2 separate regions of the Homo sapiens genome follow, and region 1 is linked to region 2. Evidence: fine-mapped expression QTL. Tissue or cell type: whole blood. Region 2 holds a variant in brackets; the other region holds the start of a gene. All regions are shown on one strand. Distances are between the middles of the regions.

What was found. PIP is the estimated chance that this variant, and not a neighbour inherited with it, causes the effect.
Region 1: it holds the start of B4GALT1, and the variant in region 2 is fine-mapped to the expression of B4GALT1 in whole blood (TOPMed, PIP above 0.99).

What each region holds. Positions count from the first base shown.
Region 1 is chr9:33,166,139-33,168,757 of GRCh38, reverse strand. B4GALT1 (beta-1,4-galactosyltransferase 1) reads left to right here and starts at 1,422. Exons shown (of 6, transcript NM_001497.4): 1 at 1,422-2,000. The coding sequence starts at 1,589. B4GALT1-AS1 (B4GALT1 antisense RNA 1) reads right to left here and starts at 1,810. Exons shown (of 3, transcript NR_108110.1): 1 at 1,712-1,810. RefSeq lists enhancers at 839-918, 441-1,005, 989-1,088, 1,006-1,571 and silencers at 1,239-1,638, 1,397-1,670.
Region 2 is chr9:33,111,661-33,114,160 of GRCh38, reverse strand. It overlaps B4GALT1 (beta-1,4-galactosyltransferase 1), which reads left to right. Exons shown (of 6, transcript NM_001497.4): 5 at 283-387; 6 at 575-2,500. The coding sequence ends at 707. Among named protein-coding and RNA genes, the nearest start is that of MIR12117, 4.2 kb to the right of the region's middle. RefSeq lists an enhancer at 1,971-2,500. The variant A/G (reference allele first, on the strand shown) is at 1,090.

The DNA of each region.
Region 1 (2,619 bases), 55 kb before region 2:
TATAAATCATTCCGAGGCAGTAAGTGTAGACACAAAAGAACATCATGGACTATGGCTGGGGCCTTCAGCAACTGGGGAAGAAGTCCAGAGAGGAGACAGAAATGGCCAGTGAAGTGAGGAAGATCAGAAGGACCTGGTGTCCAGGAAGTCAAGTGAGGAAAGTTGATTCTGTATGATCACAACCAAAGTGTCAACTCATAAGCCTTATTTTCTCATCTGTGAAATGGACACCGTAACACCACCTACTTCATGGCAGATAGTACTGGCACACAGCAAACTCTCAAAATAAGGTAGCTACTGTTATTCCCTGATGGTTGGCTGCCAGAGCCCTCAACTTCCCTATCCACATTACTGACAGCACCTCCATGAGTCTTTCTCTGGGGTGAGGTGTCTCTGCTCACTCAGGGCCTGAGGCCTCTGGGTCAAATCGAGGTCAAGTGGCTTCAGTGCCTAAGTCTCTCACCCACACAGCCTTCAGCCCTTACTTGCAAATCAACAAAGGGTAAACCTGTAGAAAACATGGGTTTCGGAGCCAGAATTCTGCCTCTTGCCAGCTGTGGGCTCTTAGGAAAGTTTCTTAATCTGCCGGGGCCCCACTCTACGACATGGGGAGAACTGCTACTTCATGGGACAGTGGGTAGCCCAGTGTAGACTGTAACGCCGGCTGATCTCCTGCACGCTGGCCTGGGAGTTAGAGGCTTCTTGCTGCTCTCCTCTTCAAAGTATACAGGACTCCCGCCACACACACATCTGGAACCAAGCTGGTCTGAGAGCCCCTTATAGCCCAGGCTACCTGATGGGGAGGCACAGAAGTGGCAACCCGTCCACTTTCTTTGCCGCAGGACCCCCCGTTAAGCAGCGGGGTCCAGCCGGGCTGAGTTAGGGAGGGGGTTTCGAACGTGCCACTCCTCGCCCGGCGTCGAAGCCCGTTTCCTGGGTAACCTTTTTCTGCCTCTCTTCCTAGCCCACCAAGGCCCACTGGCCAGAACGCCGCCGCGGCCCCAAACCACTCCAGATAACCACCCGCCAGCTGTCCTCTCCGTTCTCTCCGCCGCCGCGCTGCAGGCCCAGGCTCGCACCCGAGTCCCTTCGCACCCCAGGAAGTGGCGCGGCCTGTCGAGGGCAGCGTGGAGGAGGAAGAGGAGGCGCGGCTCAACGCGACCGAAGCTCCGCCGCAAAGGCTCGGGAGGAAGAGGGCGGTGCGCGGCCAAGCGTCGGAGCTGCAGTCATACTCCGGGGACCCCACGACGGCGCCCCGCCCGCTGCCCACCCTCCCGAGGCCCCGCCCAGCGCGCCCATCCCGCCACGGGCTGCCCCGCCTTCCCGCCCTCGTCCAGAAAACCCCGCGCCCGGCCCCGCCCCCGCCTTCGCCGGGGCCCCGCCCCTCCCCTCTCCGCCGGCGCCTCGGGCGGCTTCTCGCCGCTCCCAGGTCTGGCTGGCTGGAGGAGTCTCAGCTCTCAGCCGCTCGCCCGCCCCCGCTCCGGGCCCTCCCCTAGTCGCCGCTGTGGGGCAGCGCCTGGCGGGCGGCCCGCGGGCGGGTCGCCTCCCCTCCTGTAGCCCACACCCTTCTTAAAGCGGCGGCGGGAAGATGAGGCTTCGGGAGCCGCTCCTGAGCGGCAGCGCCGCGATGCCAGGCGCGTCCCTACAGCGGGCCTGCCGCCTGCTCGTGGCCGTCTGCGCTCTGCACCTTGGCGTCACCCTCGTTTACTACCTGGCTGGCCGCGACCTGAGCCGCCTGCCCCAACTGGTCGGAGTCTCCACACCGCTGCAGGGCGGCTCGAACAGTGCCGCCGCCATCGGGCAGTCCTCCGGGGAGCTCCGGACCGGAGGGGCCCGGCCGCCGCCTCCTCTAGGCGCCTCCTCCCAGCCGCGCCCGGGTGGCGACTCCAGCCCAGTCGTGGATTCTGGCCCTGGCCCCGCTAGCAACTTGACCTCGGTCCCAGTGCCCCACACCACCGCACTGTCGCTGCCCGCCTGCCCTGAGGAGTCCCCGCTGCTTGGTAAGGACTCGGGTCGGCGCCAGTCGGAGGATTGGGACCCCCCCGGATTTCCCCGACAGGGTCCCCCAGACATTCCCTCAGGCTGGCTCTTCTACGACAGCCAGCCTCCCTCTTCTGGATCAGAGTTTTAAATCCCAGACAGAGGCTTGGGACTGGATGGGAGAGAAGGTTTGCGAGGTGGGTCCCTGGGGAGTCCTGTTGGAGGCGTGGGGCCGGGACCGCACAGGGAAGTCCCGAGGCCCCTCTAGCCCCAGAACCAGAGAAGGCCTTGGAGACTTCCCTGCTGTGGCCCGAGGCTCAGGAAGTTTTGGAGTTTGGGTCTGCTTAGGGCTTCGAGCAGCCTTGCACTGAGAACTCTGGTAGGGACCTCGAGTAATCCACTCCCTTTTGGGGACTGACGTGAGGCTCCCGGTGGGGAAGGAGACTGACCTCTCGGTTCACGTGTCTTGCCATAGAGCCACTCTCCTGAGTGGGTTTTTCTCCTGATCGTTTGGGCCAAGTGACTTCTCTCTGAACCTCATATTTCTCTTCTGGGATAATAAATGGTCACCCTTTCAAGGGGTTGTTTTGGAAGATATTGTGAACAATGGTAAATAAGGGCTTAATTAATGAGGGTAAG
Region 2 (2,500 bases):
TTTGAAGCATTCACACTGTATATTCTGTGGGGCACACGGCCCCAGTGTCTGGCACATGGTAGTCAACACCACAAACCGCAGAACCAGTTGTAAAAGGACATGGAGTCGGAATGTGAGTTTTAACCAGGGTCATGCTGGGCTGGGTTCTGGCATGATGCTGGGTTGTGGGCTGAGTGAGAACAGCAAGGGTGATGGTGGATGGAGCAACAGTCTTGCAGCCGGGGCTCTCAGGCCAAGTGTATGGCAGCTCTGTGATAATGACTTTCCCTTTACTCTTTGCAGATTAGTTTTTAGAGGCATGTCTATATCTCGCCCAAATGCTGTGGTCGGGAGGTGTCGCATGATCCGCCACTCAAGAGACAAGAAAAATGAACCCAATCCTCAGAGGTGCATTCTTTGTTTATTCATACTCCTTCCCCCTTTAGGATGAGGTAGGCTGCAGGTCCGAGGCTCTGGGCCTAGAGGGAAATTGAGGTGGTCAGGTTACAGTGGAGAGGGAGGAGGAAGTACGTGTGATGATTTCTTCTTAAGATTTTTGTTTTAAGACAATCTCCTTGTGCTCTTTTCCTTGTAGGTTTGACCGAATTGCACACACAAAGGAGACAATGCTCTCTGATGGTTTGAACTCACTCACCTACCAGGTGCTGGATGTACAGAGATACCCATTGTATACCCAAATCACAGTGGACATCGGGACACCGAGCTAGCGTTTTGGTACACGGATAAGAGACCTGAAATTAGCCAGGGACCTCTGCTGTGTGTCTCTGCCAATCTGCTGGGCTGGTCCCTCTCATTTTTACCAGTCTGAGTGACAGGTCCCCTTCGCTCATCATTCAGATGGCTTTCCAGATGACCAGGACGAGTGGGATATTTTGCCCCCAACTTGGCTCGGCATGTGAATTCTTAGCTCTGCAAGGTGTTTATGCCTTTGCGGGTTTCTTGATGTGTTCGCAGTGTCACCCCAGAGTCAGAACTGTACACATCCCAAAATTTGGTGGCCGTGGAACACATTCCCGGTGATAGAATTGCTAAATTGTCGTGAAATAGGTTAGAATTTTTCTTTAAATTATGGTTTTCTTATTCGTGAAA[A/G]TTCGGAGAGTGCTGCTAAAATTGGATTGGTGTGATCTTTTTGGTAGTTGTAATTTAACAGAAAAACACAAAATTTCAACCATTCTTAATGTTACGTCCTCCCCCCACCCCCTTCTTTCAGTGGTATGCAACCACTGCAATCACTGTGCATATGTCTTTTCTTAGCAAAAGGATTTTAAAACTTGAGCCCTGGACCTTTTGTCCTATGTGTGTGGATTCCAGGGCAACTCTAGCATCAGAGCAAAAGCCTTGGGTTTCTCGCATTCAGTGGCCTATCTCCAGATTGTCTGATTTCTGAATGTAAAGTTGTTGTGTTTTTTTTTAAATAGTAGTTTGTAGTATTTTAAAGAAAGAACAGATCGAGTTCTAATTATGATCTAGCTTGATTTTGTGTTGATCCAAATTTGCATAGCTGTTTAATGTTAAGTCATGACAATTTATTTTTCTTGGCATGCTATGTAAACTTGAATTTCCTATGTATTTTTATTGTGGTGTTTTAAATATGGGGAGGGGTATTGAGCATTTTTTAGGGAGAAAAATAAATATATGCTGTAGTGGCCACAAATAGGCCTATGATTTAGCTGGCAGGCCAGGTTTTCTCAAGAGCAAAATCACCCTCTGGCCCCTTGGCAGGTAAGGCCTCCCGGTCAGCATTATCCTGCCAGACCTCGGGGAGGATACCTGGGAGACAGAAGCCTCTGCACCTACTGTGCAGAACTCTCCACTTCCCCAACCCTCCCCAGGTGGGCAGGGCGGAGGGAGCCTCAGCCTCCTTAGACTGACCCCTCAGGCCCCTAGGCTGGGGGGTTGTAAATAACAGCAGTCAGGTTGTTTACCAGCCCTTTGCACCTCCCCAGGCAGAGGGAGCCTCTGTTCTGGTGGGGGCCACCTCCCTCAGAGGCTCTGCTAGCCACACTCCGTGGCCCACCCTTTGTTACCAGTTCTTCCTCCTTCCTCTTTTCCCCTGCCTTTCTCATTCCTTCCTTCGTCTCCCTTTTTGTTCCTTTGCCTCTTGCCTGTCCCCTAAAACTTGACTGTGGCACTCAGGGTCAAACAGACTATCCATTCCCCAGCATGAATGTGCCTTTTAATTAGTGATCTAGAAAGAAGTTCAGCCGAACCCACACCCCAACTCCCTCCCAAGAACTTCGGTGCCTAAAGCCTCCTGTTCCACCTCAGGTTTTCACAGGTGCTCCCACCCCAGTTGAGGCTCCCACCCACAGGGCTGTCTGTCACAAACCCACCTCTGTTGGGAGCTATTGAGCCACCTGGGATGAGATGACACAAGGCACTCCTACCACTGAGCGCCTTTGCCAGGTCCAGCCTGGGCTCAGGTTCCAAGACTCAGCTGCCTAATCCCAGGGTTGAGCCTTGTGCTCGTGGCGGACCCCAAACCACTGCCCTCCTGGGT